Linked DNA regions of Homo sapiens: region 1 is linked to region 2. The links come from fine-mapping of genetic effects on gene expression. A gene starts in region 2. The other region holds a variant in brackets. All regions are shown on one strand. Distances are from middle to middle. Region 1 overlaps DNAJC5 (DnaJ heat shock protein family (Hsp40) member C5). Region 2 holds the start of UCKL1 (uridine-cytidine kinase 1 like 1).

The links.
Region 1: its variant is fine-mapped to the expression of UCKL1 in whole blood (INTERVAL, PIP above 0.99).

The regions. Positions count from the first base shown.
Region 1 is chr20:63,921,175-63,932,965 of GRCh38, forward strand. DNAJC5 (DnaJ heat shock protein family (Hsp40) member C5) reads left to right here. Exons shown (of 5, transcript NM_025219.3): 2 at 7,161-7,278; 3 at 8,138-8,351; 4 at 9,677-9,848; 5 at 10,291-11,791. The coding sequence starts at 7,172. The coding sequence ends at 10,394. Among named protein-coding and RNA genes, the nearest start is that of MIR941-5, 7.2 kb to the left of the region's middle. RefSeq lists an enhancer at 11,062-11,563. The variant G/A (reference allele first, on the strand shown) is at 7,676.
Region 2 is chr20:63,950,801-63,960,003 of GRCh38, forward strand. It overlaps UCKL1 (uridine-cytidine kinase 1 like 1), which reads right to left and starts at 5,616. Exons shown (of 15, transcript NM_017859.4): 1 at 5,460-5,616. The coding sequence starts at 5,572. It overlaps ZNF512B (zinc finger protein 512B), which reads right to left. Exons shown (of 17, transcript NM_020713.3): 17 at 5,904-9,203. The coding sequence ends at 9,088. UCKL1-AS1 (UCKL1 antisense RNA 1) reads left to right here and starts at 2,584. Exons shown (of 1, transcript NR_027287.2): 1 at 2,584-6,185. RefSeq lists silencers at 4,703-5,012, 5,063-5,112, 5,213-5,582, 6,173-6,382 and enhancers at 5,713-5,772, 5,802-6,689, 6,690-7,575.

The sequences.
Region 1 (11,791 bases), 28 kb before region 2:
CCTCAAACTCCTGACCTCAGGTGATCCGCCCTCCTCAGCCTCCCAAAGTTTTGGGATTACAAGCTTGAGCCACCGTGCCCGGCCACCTTGTTTGCTTTTTAAAGATAATGATGTCACTAAAAGAGTTCTGACTGAGGCCGGGCCTGGTGGCTCACACCTGTAATCCCAGCACTTTGGGAGGCCGAGGCTGGTGGATCACGAGGTGTGGTGATCAAGACCATCCTGGCTAACACGGTGAAACCCCGTCTCTACTAAAACTGCAAAAAATTAGCCGGGCGTGGTGGCGGGTGCCTGTAGTCCCAGCTACTCAGGAGGCTGAGGCAGAAGAATGGCGTGAACCCGGGAGGCGGAGCTTGCAGCAAGCCGAGATAGTGCCACTGCACTCCAGCCTGGGAGACAGAGCGAGACTCCGTCTCAAAAAAAAAAAAAAAGAGTTCTGACTGAAGGTTGGAACTTAGCCCTCCAGAAATGAAGACTGCGAATAACGCTGATGGCAGCTCGTCACTTGCAGCAGGTTGCAGCACGTGCTGCTCGTGTAGCTGCGGCTGCACACCAGGCCTCTCCTTTAACTGTGTTATAACCTTTCTGTTGACATGGGATCCCCTTGAAAGTTTTTTTTTTGGAGACAGGGTCTCACTCTGTCACCCAGGCTGACGTCCAGTGGTGCAATTTCAGTTCACTGCAACCTCCTCCTCCCGGGTTCAAGCCATCCTCCTGCCTCAGCCTCCCAACTAGCTGGGATTACAGATGCACACCGTCACACCCAGCTAATTTTTGTATTTGTAGTAGAGATGAGGTTTCACCACGTTGGCCAGGCTGGTCTCAAACTCTTGATCTCAGGTGATTCAACCACCTCAGCCTCCCAAAGTGCTGGAATTACAGGCGTGAGCCACCACTCCCGGCCCCCTTGAAATTTAAACCAAGTTTAGGAAGAATGAAGTTGTGAGGTGCTACTTCAAACATCAGGTGGCAAACTCCCGGACTCATTACCCCAAGGAAATAGGCAGTCCAGGTTGGTGGCTCACGCCTGTAATCCCAGCACTTCGAGAGGCCGAGGCAGGCGGGTCACCTGAGGTCAGGAGTTCAAGACTATCCTGGCCAACATGGTGAAGCCCATCTGTACTAAAAATACAAAAAAATTAGCTGGGTGTGGTGGCGCGCGCCTGTAATCCCAGCCACTTGGCAGGCTGAGGCAGGAGAATCGCTTGAACCTGGGTGGTGGAGGGTGCATGGAGCCAAGATTGCACCATTGCACTCCATCCAGTTTGGGTGACAGAGTGAGACTCTGTCTCAAAAAAAAAAAAAAAATAGACATCAGAAAGGGTTGGCTCCTGTGATCTCGGCACTTTGGTGACCATGACCCAAGGCAGGAGGATCACTTGAGCCAAGGAATTCAAGATCAGCCTGAGCAACATAGACCCCGTCTCTGCAAAAAATTTCTAAAAACTTAGCTGGCATGGTGGCTCACGCCTGTAGTCCCACCTATTCAGGAGGCTGTGTTGGGAGGATCACTTGAGTCTGAGAGGTTGAGGCTGCCATGATCCCTTATCACACCACTGCATTCCAGCCTGGGTGACAGAGCAAGACCCTGTCTCCAAACAAACAAAAAAGCAAAAAATGGTGTTTTACCTAGGTATTTACCATTTCCAGTGGTCTTCATTCCTTTCTAAAAATCTAGGTTTTAGCCGGACATGGTGGCTCATGCCTGTAATCCCCAGCACTTTGGGAGGCTGAGGCGGGTGGCTCACCTGAGGTCAGGAGTTCCAGACCAGCCTAGCCAACATGGCAAAACCCAATCTCTACTAAAAATACAAAAATTAGCCAGGCGTGGTGGTACGTGCCTGTAGTCCCAGCTATTCAGGAGGCTACGGCAGGAGAATCGCTTGAGCCTGGAAGGTGGAGGTTGCAGTGAGCTGAGATTGCACCACTGCACTCCAGCCTGGGCAACAGAGTGAGACTCTGTCTCAAAAAAGAAAAAAAAAAGAATAAGTCACATTTTGGTGAGGAGCAGTGGCTTGCACCTATAATCCTGGCACTTTGGGAGGCTGAGGCAGGAGGATCACTTGAGACCAGCCTGGGCAACAAAGCCAGACCGTGTCTCTATAGAAAATTTTAAAGTTAGCTGGGCATGGTGGCACATTCCTGTAGTCTTAGCTGCTTGGGATGCTGAGAAGGGAGGCTTTCTTGAGTCCAGGATTTCAAGGCTGCAGTGAGCCAAGATCGCACCACTGCACTCCAGCCTGGGCAACAGAGAAAAACCTTGTTTCTAAAAAAAAAAATTAGGCTGGGTAGGGTGGCTCACACCTGTGATCCCAGCACTTTGGGAGGCTGTAGCAGGCGGATTGCTTGAGTCTGGGAGTTTGAGACCAACAAGATCCTGACTCTATAAAAATTTTAAAAAATAGCTGGGCGTGGTATTGCACACCTGTAGTCCCAGCTACTCAGGAGGCTGAGGTGGGGGGATCAGCTGAGCCCAGGAGGTCAAGGTTGCAGTGAGCTGAAATGTGACCACTGCACTCCAGCCCGGGCAATAAAGTCAGGCGGGGAAAAGAAAGAATGAGTTAACATTTTCTCAGCTTTATGTGTTGAGTGATTTTGGATTCTATCCTGAAATGGTAAGAATGAAAAGAAAATCTGCCAAGTCCATCCGTTCCTACACTCTCACTGCCTCCAAGTCATTCTGCGCTCTTGAGCCAGAACGACCTGGCCGTTTTTAAAAATGGAGTTTTTTGCCTTAGTAATTGACTTGTGTAAGAGTTCTTTATTCCACTTGTGAATTGTTTTTTATACGTACATAATGTAAATATTTTCTCCCCTTCTGTGCCTTTCAGTATGAATCTATCTGAACTCGATTCTGCTGTTGTGTGTGTGTCTTTTCCTCAGTACCAGATGGTCTTGATTACTGTAGATATATAGTATATGTCTTGAAATCAATAGGGTAAATTCTCTAACTTTTGTTCTTTTTATTAATGTTGCTGTGGCTAATCTGTCTGCTACATTTCCTTATACATTTAAAAAAATCAGTATCAGTTTCTGCAAAAAAAAATCCTCTTGGATTAGGGTTAGGCTTCTGTCAAGTCTACAGATCAGTTTGGGGAGAACTGACTTCTTTATATCGAGGCTTCTAATCCGTGAACATGAGGAATCTTTTTCTTATCTTTAGTATCTTAGCAATTTGTGGTTTTCAACGTACAGATTTCATAGGTCTTGTTATTTCTTTTTCTTTTTTTGAAACAAGGTCTCACTGTGTCACCCAGGCTACAGTGTGGTGGCACGATCATGGCTCACTGCAGCCTCGAGCTTCTGGGCTCAGCCATCCTCTTATCTCAACCTCCTGTGTCACTAGGACCACAGACATGAGCCACCATGCCTATTTAACTTAAAAACAAAAACAAAAAACCGGGCACGGTGGCTCATGCCTGTAATCGCAGCACTTTGGGAGGCCGAGGGGGGGATTGACTGAGGCCAGGAGTCCGTGACCAGCCTGGACAACATGGCAAAACCCTGTCTCTAAAAATACAAAAATTAGCTGGGTGCAGTGGTGCGTGCCTGTAGTCCCGTGCCTGCGGCATGGGAATGGGTTGAGCCTGGGAGGCGGAGGTTGCAGTGAGTTGATGACTTAGGATTTTTCTTCTCGGTCACTTTGCAAGCCGGGGACCCCTGGCCAGTGATGCCCCACCTGGGCCCTGCTTGGCCACACTGGCGTGCCCCAACTCACCTGTGTTATAGCTTGTACTGTGTTCGGCCATTCCCGAGCTCATGTACCGCACTCAAGATCAAGGATACACTGGACATTGAAGGGTGAGGAGGGCGGAGAAGAACTTTATTGAGCAGTGAAACAGCTTTCAGCGGACCAGGGGATGCAGGGGTGGTTCCCCTACCTGAAGGCAGGAAAGTCCGCCTGTGTGGCTGGGTCTGGGGCTTTTTATGGACTCAGGATGCGGAGTGCTTGCAGAGCTTGCTGATGGGTTTGTGAGTATGCAGAAAAGGTTAAAGTGGGCATGACAGTGTAGAAAACCAATTATAAGAGGCCGGGCACGGTGGCTCACGCCTGTAATCCCAGCACTTTAGGAGGCTGAGGCAGACGGATCACAAGGTCAGGAGTTCAAGACCATCCTGGTCAATGTGGTGAAACCCCATCTCTACTAAAAATACAAAAATTACCTGGGCGTGGTTCGCGTGCCTGTAGTCCCAGTGACTTGGGAGGCTGAAGCAGAAGAATCGCTTGAACCCGGGAGGCAGAGATTGCAGTGAACTGAGGTCACACCACTGCACTCCAGCCTGGGCAAACAGAGCGAGACTCCACCTCAAAAATAAAAATTAGGAAAGGGTAGGTATGTGTAAAATAGGTGAAGGATGGGGATCAATCAGAGGAAAGTGTGGCAAACAGGAAGGCAAGTTCTTCATCTAGTCTGAGGATTTAACTTGTAGCTCAGCTGTCAGGCTTTAAACTGTCTTTGGCTTGGAGGTGGGTTTCACCGGGAACCCGCCCCATCTGCCTGGCATTCAGCTGCCTCCTGCCAGTATCACCGAGATCGCGTCACCGCACTCCAGCCTGGGCAACAAAGCGAGACTATCTCAAAACCCCATATTGATGTCATTTCCTAAATATTTGGTTAAAAAAAAAATCTGGGCCTGGAATTTTATCTGGTTTTTTTTTTTTTTTTTTTTGAGACGGAGTCTCGCTGTGTCGCCCAGGCTGGAGTGCAGTGGTGCGATCTCTGCTCACTGCAAGCTCCGCCTTCCGGGTTAACGTCATTCTCCTGCCTCAGCCTCCCGAGTAGCTGGGACTACAGGTGCCTGCCACCACTTCCGGCTAATTTTTTTGTATTTTTATTAGAGATGGGGTTTCACTGTGTTAGCCAGGATGGTCTCAATCTCCTGATCTCGTGATCTGCCCGCCTTGGCCTCCCAAAGTGCTGGGATTACAGGCGTGAGCCACGGCGCCTGGCCTTCTGGGGATTTTTTATTACAAATATAACTTTATTAACAGATGCAGGCCTATTCAGATTTTCTATTTCATGTCAGTCTTGGTAAATTGTAATTTTCAAGATATTTGTCCATTTCATCTAATTTTTCTAATTTCTTGGCATGAAGTTGTTCGTATTTTATCCTTTTCACGCCTCTAGGATCTGTAGTGATGTCTTTCCTCATGTTGCTCAAAGAACCAACTCTTTTGGCTTTGTTGAAGTTATCTGTTTGTTTTCATGGATTTCTGTTCCTTATGATTTCCTTGCTTGCATTTATGTTGGGTTTATCCTGTTACTTTGTAGCTTCCTGAGGCGGAGCCTTAGGCCTTGATTAACGTGTTGTACTAGTCAGCATTCTGCAGAGGAACGTTGCCATTATCTGTGTCTCTTTCTAAAGGAGATTTGTTATGAGGAATTGGCCCACGTCATTATGGAGACGGAATCTCATGCTCTGCCATTTGCTGAAGATTGAGGAAAGCAGTGGGATAATAACAGTCCAAGGACAGGAGGAGACACGTGGCCCCGCTCAGGCTGGCAGGCGAGAAGGAAAACCCAGGCCAACTCCTCCTCCCACCCCTTTCTATTCGGGACCCCCGTGGACTGGGACGACACTCACCTGCACAGGGCAGCGCAGTTGGCTTCATGGAGCCCCCAGCTCAGGTGCTGCTCTTACCAAGAAACACCCTCCCAGGCACACCCTGAAGTCATGTTTCATCTGGGTGCCCCACGATGCAGCAAAGGAGACATGAAATTAACCGTCATGTACACTGTATTTATTATTCAATTCAAAACATTTTCTAAGTTCCCCTGGGATTTCTTCTTTGAGCTACATGTTAGCCGGAGGTGTGTTGTTGAATATCAAGAGTATCTTCCTCCTGGGTTTCCAGTTTGTAGCTAAGTCAGGGATAGTGCTGTGTGTGACCTCATTCCATTACGTTTATTGAAACCAGCTTGAAGCCCTAACATGTGGCTTGTCTTAGTGTACAGCATTCAGTTAAAAACAATGTGTGTTCTCTAGATGTTGGGTGTTCTGTGACTGTCACGTCATGGTGGTTGATTAGTTAGAAACAATGTAGAAACAATGTGTATTTGCCAGGCGCTGTGGCTCACACCTATAACCCCAGCACTGTGGGAGGCTGAGGCAGGCGGATCACCTGAGGTCGGGAGTTCAGCCTGAGGTCGGGAATTCAAGACCAGCCTGGCCAACATGGAGAAACCCCATCTCTACTAAAAATACCAAAATTAGCTGGGTGTGGTGGCACATGCCTGTAATCCCAGCTACTCCTGTGTGAGGCTGAGGCAGGAGCATTGCTTGAACCGGGGAGGCGGAGGTTGTGGTGAGCCGAGATCGTGCCATTGCACTCCAGCCTGGGCAACAAGAGCAAAACTGTCCCCCCCCCCAAAAAAGAAAGAAAGAAACTGTGTGTTCTCTAGATGTTGGGTGTTCTGTGAAGATCAGGTCATGGTGGTTGATAGTGTTGTTCAGAACATCGATGTTTTTCCTGATTTTTGGTCTGTTCTGTCGATTTCTGAGAAAGTATTAAAATTAAAGTTGGGTCTTGCATTTTTATCCATTCTGTCAGTCCCTTACTTTAATTGGAGTTTTTTGTCCACTAACATTGAATTTAATTGTTGATATGTTTGGATTTAGATCTTCCAACTAATTTTCTATTTGTTTCCTGTGTTGAGTTACTTTTTCATTTTTCTTGTAACTTTTTAGCTTATACCTCTTTGCATTTTTTATGCAGAGGTTGCTGTAAGGATTACAATATGCATGTTTATTTTAATTAATTAATTTATTTTGTTTATTTATATATTTGTTTTTAAGGAACAGGGTCCCTGTCTCCTGGGCTCCAGTGCAGTGGAGTGATCATAGCTCACTGCAGCCTCAAACTCCTGGGCTCAAGCGGTCCTCCCGCCTCAGCCTCCCAAAATGCTGGGACTACAGGTGTGAGCCCCTGTGCCGGCCCACAGTACACAGCTGCAGTTCTTCAGGATCTCTTGGGGTGGCCGTATTCTGCCGTCTCACACTTCTCCATGCCATGGCGTCTGTCTGTGCACGTGGCAAACTCCACAAGGCAGTGTTGGATTCTTTTGCTTTGAACGGTCTTATGGAATAAAGTCCATCAGCTCTGCCCTTGGTACTTTCATCTATACTTTGTGATACTTTCTTTTTATTTTTTCTTCTAGAATAGCCTAACATGGCAGACCAGAGACAGCGCTCACTGTCTACCTCTGGGGAGTCATTGTACCACGTCCTTGGGTTGGACAAGAACGCAACCTCAGATGACATTAAAAAGTCCTATCGGTAAGTGGACAAGTGTGGCCCCCACATCCCCCCAGGAAGACACACATGCCCCGTGTGGTTTAGTCTGCATTTTACCAAGAACCATTGCACATACTTTATCCTGGCCGACTCAGCGTTGAACTGGTCACAGCTCGGTAACACCTTTGTATGTGTAATGTGCTCCTTATAGCTTAAAGTTATGGTATTCATGTTCTCTTGCCAACAAAAAATAGCACTTAGTAGAAACTGACACACTGTCCACAGTTCCATAGGGAGTCAGGGTCTGAACCTGTTTGAGGCCTCACAGGAGCCGCAGAGCGCTGGCATGGTCCTGTGGTCTCCTTGTTTTAGCACAGTGATGACAGAGACCCCTCACTCTGTTGTGGCCTTCTGATTGAGCTTGAAGAACTGCACTCTT[G/A]GGTACAGTTTCATTGAGTAACCTGTAAGAGACACCATCACTAATCCAGACAATTCAGATAGTCCTCCTCTCGTGTGCTAGCATCGTGTAGTTCATAAAACACTTCTTAAAGTGCCATCATTACGCCCCGCCGTGCTTACCGTTCACTTGGCACTTGTGCAGTTAGCGGCTGGGACACCAGGGCTGGCCTTGGTGCCGCTGAACTTAGATGTGCCGTGGCACTCACAGCCCTTGGGGCTCCCTCCTCTGAGGCTGGGTCAGGGTGAGGAGGTTTACCTGAAACAACCGCGGAGCTTGCTTTTGTCCCTGGCCCCTGCAGCCCTGGAGAGTCGGACAGTGAGGTGGCCTGGGTGGACCTGCCTTCCACTGCACCCGGCAGTGCGTGCGGGTGGGATGGACGCGGCGGCGGGTGCGGGTGGAACAAAGTCCAGGGTAGAGCCAGGACATGGTTTTGGTTTGCAGGAAGCTTGCCTTGAAATATCACCCCGACAAGAACCCCGACAACCCGGAGGCCGCGGACAAGTTTAAGGAGATCAACAACGCGCACGCCATCCTCACGGACGCCACAAAAAGGAACATCTACGACAAGTACGGCTCGCTGGGTCTCTACGTGGCCGAGCAGTTTGGGGAAGAGAACGTGAACACCTACTTCGTGCTGTCCAGCTGGTGGGCCAAGGTGAGGGCGAGCTGCCTGCCGTGCGGGCACCCGAGTCACTCCTGCCGTGCGGGCACCCGAGTCTCTCCTGCCGTGCGGGCACCCGAGTCACTCCTGCCGTGCGGGCACCCGAGTCTCTCCTGCCGTGCGGGCACCCGAGTCTCTCCTGCCGTGCGGGCACCCGAGTCACTCCTGCCGTGCGGGCGCCCGAGTCACTCCTGCCGTGCGGGCACCCGAGTCTCTCCTGCCATGTGGGCACCCGGGTCACTCCACGCCTGCAGGGTTCCCAGCATTGCAGAGCCCATGCGTTGATGCCAGCAACTCTACACTCCTGAGAAAAGGCTTCTGGGCATATGGAGCCTTTCTCCTCACCTGTGTGATGGGCGAAGCTCTGTCACTGGCTTGGTGTCCTGCCTGGAACAAGCCATAGCGTACAGATTGTCCCAGGGAAGAGCCGTGCGGAGCCGCCAGGGTTTCTTCTGTAAATGGCTCCCAGTCCTTCGTGAGACAGGAGGAAATAAGCCTCGATGTTACATCCGCATTTCTTCGTTTCCTCGTTTTGTTCCAAATGTCATATATGAGGCCAGAGGGTTGGAATCACTGCATGGCATTTGTGAGAAGCCTGTATTTGGCTTTGACTGGTCGGCCTCCTCACTAGAATCCTTATAAAGTACTTTTTATTTAGTTAATGTTAGACAGAGTCTCGCTCTGTTGCCCAGACTGGAGTGCTGTGGTGAGATCCTGGCTCACTTTAACTTTGAATTCCTGGGTTCAAGTGATCCTCCCACTTCAGCTCCAGAACTGCAGGAGTTGAGGCGTGAACCACTGTGCCCAGCCTGGAGGCTGCTTTGTTTTTTTTTTGAGACGGAGTCTCGCTCTGTTTCCCAGGCTGGAGTGCAGTGGCGCGATCTTGGCTCACTGCAAGCTCCACCTCCCGGGTTCACGCCATTCTCCTGCCTCTGCCTCCCGAGTGGCTGGGACTACAGGTGCCCGCCACCACGTCCAGCTAATTTTTTGTATTTTTAGTAGAGACAGGGTTTCACCGTGTTAGCCAGGATGGTCTCGATCTCCTGACCTCGTGATCCGCCAGCCTCGGCCTCCTGGAGTGCTGGGATGACAGGCATGGGCCACCACGCCCGTCTTGGAGGCTGCTTTTCTTTAAGCTGCGGGTTTCTTTCTGTCTCTCCTCCTCCCTTCTTCAGTTCTTTCCTTCTGCTTCCTGTCTGGAAGGCAGTATCCCCACCTGGAACGCACCCCCTGCCTTCTGCTGAGGGCATTTGGGAGTCCTGCGCCTCCCTCTCCAGGGGCCTCGGAGGCCATGCAACACCACCTTCTTCTCCCCCCAGGCCCTGTTTGTCTTCTGCGGCCTCCTCACGTGCTGCTACTGCTGCTGCTGTCTGTGCTGCTGCTTCAACTGCTGCTGCGGGAAGTGTAAGCCCAAGGCGCCTGAAGGCGAGGAGACGGAGTTCTACGTGTCCCCCGAGGATCTGGAGGCACAGCTGCAGTCTGACGAGAGGGGTGAGTGCCCGCCCCAGGGCCCGTGTGTGTGTGTGGGGCAGAGCCAGAATGGGCCCTGAATGGTGTCAACCTGTCTTGTCAAACAGGAGGGCACTGACACTGTGCCGCGAGTGTTTGTGGTGGCAGCTGGGACTGTTGAGGTGTGAACGTGGACCCTGAGGTAAAGCAGGCGCATAGAGCTGTCCCCGCCGTGACCTGCGGTAGCCGTAGATCCCAGGGACTGCGAGGCGGGGCAGGGCGGCAGGCAGTTGGGGCGGGGCTGAGGGCCGAGGGCTGGCGGTGACCCAAGGCGACGGAGGAAAGCCGTGTGGGGTGGAGGTCAGCGAGTAGCCTCTCCCGGTGGAGAGTTTGTCCAGGTGCCCGAAAGTCGCTCCACAGGACCAGCGTTGGGTGCGCGCCAGGCTGTGGCCCTCGTGCAGTGCCCTGTGTGCTTGCTTTTCAGAGGCCACAGACACGCCGATCGTCATACAGCCGGCATCCGCCACCGAGACCACCCAGCTCACAGCCGACTCCCACCCCAGCTACCACACTGACGGGTTCAACTAAATCCAGGAGGAGCTGTGGTCAGAGGAGGAGCCGGCGCCTGGCCACGCCAACCTTAGAATCATGAACTGTAGTCACAGAGATGGGAAGGCAGCCTCCTGCCTGCCCTGGCCTTGCTGGGGCCCCTCCTGCCTCCACGCCCACCCAGCGTCGACCCTTGACCCACGAAGTGCGTAGCATGCAGTATTTAAAGCAGTGTAGCTACGGTCTTCTGTTTTTTTCCCTTTTTTAATAGCATGTATGGGGTTCTGTTCCATGTCTGTGTTGTGGACATTCCGCGGCATGACCGCGTGAACTGCACGGTGGAGCTGCCTCAGGGCTGTCGGTCAGGTTGGTCCAGTGAGGGGTGACTGCAGCCGGTCAGGTGGGCGAGGAGAAGGGGGGCTGCCCCTTTCCTACCTGTGCTTGAGGGGCCGGAGGCAGGTGCTGCCTGGCAGAGCTGTGTTACCGTCTTGGCCTCGGGGTCTGGTCCACACTCTGTGCTCCCAGCCTTGAGGCTGCAGTAGGACTCTGATCTCACCTGCCAGAAGAGAGGCGGGGCCGCGTCCTCCTGGCGTCACCGGCGTCACTGTCATTCCTTGGTGTCTGTGCTGGGCATGGTTGGCTTGGGGGTCTGTGGTTTCCTGGGCCTTGTGGCAGGGTTTCTCCCGTGGGAGAATTTGGTGTGGAAAGCATAGGAGGCCCCTTCCGAGGTTGACACCGTGTCCTCCGCGGTGTTTCTCGCCTGGTCGTCTCGTCGTGTGGACGCTGCCGTTCTGGTTCTCGGAGGTGTGTCCTTCGCCGTGTTGGGGTTATTTGTCTGTGTTCCTGCACTTTTCCCGGGCTCTGAGCTGGATTGATGGGGCCAGTCTCCCCCCTCCCATCTTGAGGTCGTTCTCCACATTCCTTCCAGCACACCTGTCCTTTCCATAGCCCTTTTTGGACCTTTAGAACCACAGATGATAGGACCAGCCCAATGAGCCACAGTCAGAGAGTAGATTGTGCATGTGTGAGCACCCAGCTACTGGGGACGGGGGCTCTCCCACGACCCCTCCTCCTGTGTTTGCCAGAGCTCCCATCTGCCCCACTCGCCTTTGCCCCGTCATCGATGATTCAGGCAGAGCCAGATTCGTTAGGTCCCTGGAGGAAGGACTGACTGGACCAGAGGGACCCTCTGGCTCAGGAGGGTTGGGTCCCTGGGAGGCCGGCAGCCAGGCCACAGAATCCACACGTGGACCATTGTGGGTCCCTGGGAGGCCGGCAGCCAGGCCACGGAATCCACACGTGGACCATTGTGGGTCCCTTGGGAGGCCAGCAGCCAGACTACGGAATCCACATGTGGACCATGGGAAGTCAGTCTCTTGCGTGTCCTAGACCTTGTGGGTGGCGCCCTGCATAGGGGAGCAGGGGGAACGGGTCTG
Region 2 (9,203 bases):
CCAGGGTAAGCTGGGGGGCTGCTCATGGTCGAGGACACGGGTGGGTGCTCCTGAACAGCAGAGTGGCCCCAGGGGTGGATGCGTGGGGGCTCAGGCGCAGGCAGCCGTGGGGGACATCACCACCTCAGACCCACAGCAGTCCCCTAGGGCAGCTCAGGAGCTCCGGCCACCTGAACTGGCCCTTCCATGGGCAGGACCACTCCTGTGGGCAGCACAGTGGGTGCAGAGCCGGGTGGCTGGGGTGAGACCCTTGGCTGGCAGAAGCTGCCTGCCAAATGTCAGCAGAGGCACAGCAGCTAGGAGGCCCTTGAAGCCTCCACCGTACTGAGGGAACAGCACTCACTGCCGTCCTCAGAGGCCAAGGCCACAGGCATAAGAGGATCACCCAGCTGGGGGCTTGTGTATGCCTGATATTAATAGCGCTGGCTTTGCCTGGTGTGGCCCTGACAATCCTCGGGCCAGCCCTCGGTGTGAACTGCCCCCTCCTGTGTGTGGGCTGGCACATTCGGCCAGCCTAGGACCGCAGGCCTGCGGAGGACCACTGTGCGCCGTGTGCCTGCACCCCTCCTGGATCCCCTGGAAAAAGCTACAGTACCCCGGCCTGCCTGGGGCTACAGAGTGAACCCCCCGCAGCAGGACAAGGATATCTGAGGCGCCTCTTGGCCAGGTGTCCTGAACGTCAGTGCTGAGCTGGGCACCCCATCCCTAGCCCCAGAGTGCTTCCGACAGGCATAAACAAATCTGAAACTCCACCCTCTGGCACCATCTGAAAATAACTGCCTTGCCCTACCCCCACTCACGGGGGATCCTGCAGGGACCTGCAGCCACCCAGGGCTCACCACCCAGGGCTCAGCAGAGCACAGGGGACACAGCCACCTCCCCGCCCAGGGCTCAGCAGGGCACAGGGGACACAGCCACCTCCCCGCCCAGGGCTCAGCAGGGCACAGGGGACACAGCCACCTCCCCGCCCAGGGCTCAGCAGGGCACAGGGGACACAGCCACCTCCCCGCCCACAGAAACAGGGTTTCGGCCCCACCCTCCGCAGAGTCAGTCAAGGATGTGCACAGAGAAGTCCTGGCAGCCCTAAGCTCTCTCCCAGGGGCAGACAGGTCAGCCATGGGTGTCAGCTTCCTCCTACCATGGGTTTCTCTTGGAGCTTCTAGTACTGAGGCAGGGGCTGCCAGAAGCTCAGGGAAAAGGGAAGACTCCACATGGAGGTCATACTCCTCAATAGTAGGCCACTCCTGGGAGCTGCCTCAGAGGCAGGACCGGCCCATCTGTCTGTGTCCACAGGTGCTTCCTCTCCTCATTCTGCTCCCAGGAGGCGGCTACATCCCTCACTTGGGAAGTGGGCAGGAGACAGCCCAGGGTCGGGGAGGCGGAGGCTGTCCTGAGCAGGGGCGCAGAGTCCGGGCTCCTGGGGGCCATGCCACTGGCTGGGCTGTCTGAACAGCAGAGTGGACGCAGACTGGTCTTGCCTGGCATGGGCATGCACCCTGGCTGCCCTAGCCGGCCAAGAGGCAAGGCTACAGGCCTGGGGAAGCCAGCACTGTGCTGGCCAGGCGAGGGACGGAGGAGCCCAGGCACGCAGCTGTGAATGGAACCACCAGGCCCCACCCTGGAATCACGTCGCCTCGCTGCAGGCCACGTGGTCCCCAACATGCCCCTCCACGGGGCTGCTCTCGGCCACAGCAGCCCACGGCAGGGAGGGGCCGCTCACGGTGGGGAGGGGTAGCCTGCCCTGGTCCTATTCACTGGTGTTCCTCCCAGGTTCTAACTTCCTGAGCTGGGCCGGTCCAGAGAACTCCCATTCCCACGCCACCCACAGGTGCTGATGCCGCGCTGGGGTAAGCGCTGCCCAGAGCACCTTCTGCCTAAGGCTTCCTCCTTGCAGGTGGGGCTGTCTGAGGCCCGTGGTGCTGGAGGCTGCCTCAGTCACTTCAGGGCACCCCTTGCCCTTCCCTCACCTTCAGCCATCCTACTCTGGGCCACAGCACAGTCGAATGTGGCTCAGTCCCCTCCACGGAGCCACAGCTTGCCTCAGTTTCCTCCTCAAGGACTAACAGCAGGTTCATTACAGGTGGGTCAGCTCATAAAGTCCAAGGCAGATGCCTCATCGGTGATCAGGCCCCATAACTGATGTCATCGTCAAGAAATAGGCACAGGTGGCCGGGCGCGGTGGCTCACGCCTGTCATCCCAGCACTGTGGGAGGCCGAGGCGGGCGGATCACCCAAGGTCGGAGTTTGAGACCAGCCTCAACGTGGAGAAACCTTATCTCTACTAGAAATACAAAATTAGCTGGGCACGGTGGCACATGCCTGTAATCCCAGCACTTTGGGAGGCCAAGGCAGGTGGATCACCTGAGGTTGGGCGTTTGAGACCAGCCTGACCAACATGGAGAAACCCTGTCTCTACTAAAAACACAAAATTAGCCGGGCGTAGTGGCACATGCCTGTAATCCCAGCTACTTGGGAGGCTGAGGCAGGAGAATTGCTTGAACCCGGGAGGCAGAGGTTGCTGTGAGCTGAGATTGCGCCACTGCAATCCAGCCTGGGCAACAAGAGCAAAACTCCATCTCAAAAACAAAACAAAACAAAACAAAAGAAATACACACAGGCAGCCGGGTGCAGTGGCTCACGCCTGTAATCCCAGCACTTTCAGAGGCTGAGCGGGCAGATCATCTGAGGTCAGGAGTTCAAGACCAGCCTGGCCAACATGGTGAAACCCCGTCTCTACTAAAAATACAAAAAATTAGCTGGGCGTGGTGGCGGGCGCCTGTAGTCCCAGCTACTCGGGAGGCTGAGGCAGGAGAACTGCTTGAACCCGGGAGGCGGAGGTTGCAGTGAGCCGAGATGGTGCCATTGCACTCCAGCCCAGGACTCTATCTCCAAAAAAAAAAGAAAGGAAGAAAAATAAGCACAGGCATGTGTGGAGACCTGGAGGCAGGGCTGCCCCTCACGAACCATCCACAATGCCAAGGAAACCAGAAGCAAACGTCCAGCAGCAGGGAGCGCAGGGCATGTGAAACCGACACTGAGGAAACAGCCACGGGAGAGAGCACACAGGGAGAAAGGAAGGCTCGGGCACTCCCTTGCTGTGGTTCAGGCCTGTTCTACCACCCCTGGGGTCACCATCGCCCACGGACCTTCCTGCTGGGTGCCTGTAGCACGGCACCTCCTGACAGGTCAGGTTTAAGGGAAGTTTGCTGGATAACTAAAATGAGGCTGGGGGGAGGAGGGAGCAGGGAGGAGCTAGCCCACAGGAGCCAATGCAGGCCTGACCCCACTGGTGCCGGACTGACTCAGGGAGAGTCATTAGGGCTGCTTTCTCAGGCTGGATGAGCACTGGGGGTTGGGGGCTTGCCCTGGCCCACCCCACCACTCAGGAAACCTTCCCTCAGCAGGACCTGCCCTGCACAGATCATGGGCAGCCTCCCTCTGCTCCCCACTTCCACAGCCCCAGACTCCATCTCAACCGCAGCCAGGAGTCACTGCTAACACCACAAAGGACCTGTTCCTGCACCAGCACGGGCCAGCTCTGGGGGCAGGTGCCCAGGACAGAGTCACGAGTGGCAAGCAGACAATAAACAACAGGCAAGATGGACAGACTGATTGCCGGGAGGATGTGGCAGGAGGCACTGGAACGGTGGTGGAGGAACCCCAGCCCTGGGGACAGACCTCCACCCGTGCACAGACCTCCAAGCTGGAGCCTGCTCTGGAACACTAAGGGCAGCAGCAGAGGTTGAAGAGGGGCAGACGCAGGAACGTTGGGGACACGCTCGGGGAACAGTGAGAAAAGCCCTAGGCTGGGGCAGAGGAAGTCCTCGATGGCACAAGCATCAGGACACAAAGTGCAAGAAATGTGCCTAAGACAAGAGGCAGTTCCAGGGCAGACCGGGGCCCCTGGAGAAGGGTGCTGCAATCTATCCTCACTGCCTGGAGCTTCCCTCCTGTCCCTTGGTAACCACACCAAAGAAAGATAACAACAGTCTCTGCCTCGTGGGACACAGCGAGGGCCACCGTGCCCAGCCCACCGTCTGTGCACAGGGCAGGCCCAGATGGCTGCTGCCACCAACCTGTGTCATCCAGGAGTGCCTTTCTCAAGAGCTCTCAGTGCTTATCTAGCGTTGGCCTGCCCCACCTCGGGTTAAATCAAAACCTCTTTGGTGGCTGGGCGCGGTGGCTCACGCCTGTAATCCCACGGAGGCCGAGGCGGGCAGATCACCTGAGGTCAGGAGTTGGAGACCAGCCTGGACAACCTGACAAAATACCTCTCTACTAAAAATACAAAAAAAAATTAGCCGGGCGTGGTGGCGCACACCTGTAATTCCAGCTACTCGGGAGGCTGAGGCAGGAGAATTGCTTGAACTGAGCTCGGGAAAGGGAGGTTGCAGTGAGCCGAGATCGAGCCACTGCACTCCAGCCTGGGCGACAGAGTGAGACTCCATCTCAAAACAAAAAAACAACGCCTCTTTGGAACCAGCAGAGGAACAGACTCAGGCCCTATTAGACTCCAGCCATGCAAAGTTCCTAGTCACTGCCCACTGGGAGGGTGTGGACCTGAAGGGACGCAGGGCCAGGGGAAAGCTCTTTCTGCTCAGCAGCTCCTGGAGAGGAGCGACCCTGTGCCGGGACACCCTTCCCCCTGCGGCATCCAGCGCAGCCCATCTCTGAGGGAGTCCTGGCTCACAGCGTTTCTGACAGGAGTCACAGCCTGAACCCAGGCAAGAGGCGCCTGAGTGGGAACAACCCCTTCCTGGGGACCCCGCGGGCTCCCCAAGGGACACTTCAGACCCGGAAGGGAGGGGCAGCGCCCAGAGCGCCCTCTTGCAGCCCCGGGCACTGCGTGGCCACCGCCCCCTGACGGCCACGGCCCCAAAGGCGCCGCGCAGGGCCCGGCTCCCAGAGGGGCCACTCGGGGTGACGAACCGGGGTGGGGGCGGGTTCCTCCCGCTGCACCCCCACAACTTCCCCACTTCATGCTCTTGCAAAGCCCCCGCAGAGGCTCGAAGGTGCCACGCGCGTGCGAGGCAATCCGAAGGCACCGTGCGCCGCAGCACCTCCAAATCCTAAGCCCTGGCCTCGCGGGTCGGGCAGGGCCACACCCCGAGCCGACAACATAGACCAACTCGCACAGTCGAGCAGGCACACAGCCCGCCGGGCGCTCGAGGCCGAGGGCCCCACCCACCGGGGGCAGAGACCAAGGTCAACGCTGGGGGTGCGCACCCGGACTCCTTCCCCGAGCCCCGAGGAGCCTGCCGGCTTGGGCCAGGTCCGTCCTCCCGGCCGCTTCAAGCCCGCGGGGTTCCACCCGGCACGTGGGAGAACGGGGCGCCGCCGCCTGGCCTCCGGGAGTGGGGGACTTGGGCTCGCGGCGGGGACGGACCACCCGCCCAGCTCGGCCGGATCTGCAGCCCCTTCCCGCTCGCCAGTGGAGTGGAGGCGAGGCCCACGCCTACCGGTCCTCGCACGCGGTCTCGCTTTTCTCAGCCTGCCGGCCTGGTGTGTCTCGGGCCGTAGGTGGCGACGTGGGCGAAGGATCAGCGTCCGCGCGGGCCGGGGGCGCAGCCATGGCGCTCGGAGGCCTCTTTGCGGGCCTGGCCGGGCGGCGCGCATGGGCCGCCGGGAGCTGGCGGGTCCCTCTCTTGCCCACCGCGGACTACAAGCCCCACAAGGCCGCGCGTCGCGGACTACAAGCCCCACAAGGCCGCGCGTCGCGGACTACAAGCCCCACAAGGCCGCGCGTCGCGGACTACAAGCCCCACAAGGCCGCGCGTCGCGGACTACAAGCCCCACAAGGCCGCGCGGCGGGCATGGGGGACCCGTAGTTCGGCAGCCTCCGCCACGTGCCTGGAGGGCCCCGCCCCCTGTTTTTCACCACAAACTGAGCCGCACAAAAACCCTGGAAAAAAATCAATAAACATTTATTTGATACAGTCATTTTAATACATACAGTGATGGCCCGTCCCCACGCCACTCGGGACCAGGGCGCGGGGCGGGGACGAGGACCGGGGACAGATGGTCACAAGGCGGGCGGGGCCCGAACTCACCGTTGAAACATCTCGCAAATAAACACTTTGTAGATAGAATATATATGTATATATATATGGTTACAAGTGATAGCTGGAACCTCTTTCAAAATGCACTTATGTACTGAGAACTGGCATTAAAAAACCCAAACCAAGAAACCCAAAGCACGGGACGCCCGGCCGCGAGGCAGGGGAAAGCCTGGGGCCCCAGACCCGGGCCTGGGGGAGCCGCCTGGGGCCCCGCCAAACGCGGCACACGGGGACGGCCCCTCCCGGGGTCAGGCTCACTGGCTCCTTCCCTTCAGCGCCACCAGGCAGGAGGGCCAACGGTCACACAGGAGGCACCCTCACCTGCCTTTGCACCAGCAAATAAAGTGCATCCCATTTTCGTGTGAGCGTCGGCCCGGTGAGTCAGCCCTTCCGGGCCCTTTCCTGTTCTCAGGGCAGGGGGCGTGCGCTGAGCCAGAGGTAGATCTGCAGAAAGGGCCCCGACTGGGCCTCGGGCAGGGCCGGCGCCCACCACACTCTGGGGGTCAGCTATGCTGGTCCCTCTCACTGAGGGCTCCTGGAGGCCTATGTGGGCCAGCGTAGGGAGTGGGCAGACCCTGCTGAGCTCCACCCAGGGCCCCACCCCTTGGGAGGAGGGCTCTGCGGACCAGCATGTGGCAGAGGGAGGGCAGAAAGGAGGGGGTCAGACCCAACAGCCACTTCTGGCAGTAGCCCCCACGCCTACCTTAAAGACAAAGGGGGTTAAAGTGCTAAACATCAAGGTATCCAGGACTCCTCTTCCCACACCAGGGATTATCTGTGGGCTTTGGGAGTGTCCCGGAAACTCACCCCCAGCAAAAACCAGACCCTCTTCTCTTCTCCCCAAGGGCCAAGTACCTGAGAGGCTGGGGCAGGCACCACACCCTGCAGGTGTTCAGGTCCACCCTCCTCCCGCCATTGGTGGCAAGGACAAAGTGCACCTAGGCCCCCGCCCAGTGCCTGCTCCCCTCCCCTCCCCTCCCCTCCCCTCATGAGGCTGCCCCAGCAGCAGCTGCCAGACCCCACCCTCCACCTCCGGCTCCTCCAGCTCCACCAGTGAAGCTCTGGGACACAGGAAGGAATGCCTCCCCCGACCCTCTGACGCTGGGTCACGCCCATCTCTGCCCCAGCCTCCATCCTCTCATCAGGCCGAGGTGTGCGTGGGTGGGGGGAGTCCGGGTCTCCACACCCACTCCCTGGCACATCTGGCAAGGGCTGCTGAGGGTTGGAGCCTTCTGGCCCAAGGATGAAGCCAGAGACAGGAAGTGTTCTGCAACCCCAGTCCCCAAAGTGCTCCTGGAACTTGTCTCCCTACTACTGCAGGCCAAGCCCAGTGGGGCCCCTTCTCCCTGGGGAATGGGGGAGGGTGGGTGCTGGGGGCAGAGGCAGTGCCCAGTCAGTACTGCCTCCCTGAGCAGCAAGGGACCCCAACCCCAGAGACCCACGCCCTGGTCCAGCCCAGCCCCCAGGCCCACCGTCTGCACCAGGAAACCCTTAGCACCAAATGTCGGATTGCGAGTGTTTGTATAAAAAACAATTTAAAAAAAAGGTTGTTACTTGTCACAGCAACAAGACTGGCATCCACTACACCCAGGAGACACACGCACACGGGCAAACATCAAAATTCTCATCGTCCAGGGTCAGTGGGGCCGAGCCCTCAGCCCACTCCCACCCACCCTGGAAAATGGCCTCCCTCCAAACCTACCCCCTCTGAGCCTCATCCTCCCTGCAATGCCGTGGTTGGAAGGCAGGACCCCAGGGAGGGAGCCACAGGCTGTGGCCACCTCTTCCAGGCACCCTGGACTCCCTGCCTGACCCCTGCCCTACCTATAGACCCAGCCGTCCTCAGGGCCACAAAGGGGCAAAGACAGCTCTGGAGCTGCCATCAACCTGCTGTGACTTTGGCCAAGCCCCTCCCCTGGCTGGCCTTCAGTTCCCATATCAAATGACCACACAACCAGAAACAATGGGGGCAGGTTAAAAAAAAAAGTGGGGAGGGGGCTCCCATGAGAGCTTGGCCACTGGGCCTACCCAGATTGGCAGACAGAAGGCTGCCTTTCCCCCAGTGGCCACTCAGAGCCAGGCCAGCTCTGCCCAGCTTCCTGCCCCACATGCCTATGGGCCCCAGCAAGACCCCAGGGCCCGAACTAGTCCGTCCCTACTCCACGAGGCTGCTCCAACCTAGGCCTGCAGTGCCAGAAGGCTGAACACTGGAGGAGAGCACACTCCAGGGGCCCCACACCCCCAGGGCTGGCAGCTGTGTTGAAGGGCATCAAGCTTCTGCTGCCCTGTAGGTACAAGAAGCAAAACCCCTCCCTTGCCCCAAGCTGGGAGAATTACAGACAGGCCTGGGGGGCAGGGCCTGAGCACAGCAGGGATCGCACTGACAAAGGAGGAGCAGGGGTGGGGGTAGTGGGCAGGCCTGGAGAGGTAGAAAACAGAAGCAAGGGGACCAAGTGGGTGGCCAAGGGCAGGCCGGAGCCTGTCAGGTCAGCATGGCAGTGGTCAGACAGGGGTCTGTCCTGGGAGGTAGCTGGGGGTGCTGGAGTTCCAGTGTTGGGTGGAGGTGAGGCCAGGATGGTGGCTGCCCGTGCCAGGTTGCTCAGGTGCCCTCACCAGCCCAGAACCACAGGTCACCAGGGATGCCTGAGCCTTGGGGTAGCCAGGGAAGGGACCCGGCAGGGCCTGAGGAAGCGGAGCCGGGGGGCCAAAGGCCATCTGCCTACTCTGCGCTGCAGCCCCTGTGGCACCAAGACCCCAGACACATTCCCATGAGGAGGGGCAACCCTCCTGGCTATTGCACTTCTGCTGGGCACACCTTGGGGAGCCCCAACCCAGGTGTGCCCTGTGGCAGCCTTAACAGGGGAAGGGCCACCTTCAGGGAAGGGAGAGTGGCTGGCTGCCCCACTGGACGGATGAAGAGGCGGGGGTGGGGGATGGAGAACTGGAGGACAGAGGTCCCGGAGCTGGCCCTGCCTTGAACAGAGGGCGGTGTGGCGGCTGCATGGGGGCCAGGCCCCACGCACCATGCTCACTTTTCAGGCGCCTTGCTGACTCCCACCTTCCGGCCGGTGGAGCCCCGGGCCCCCTTGTCTCTGCATCCTGGAGGCCAGTCGTCCCGGCGCGGGGGCAGCTTGGCCACAGGCT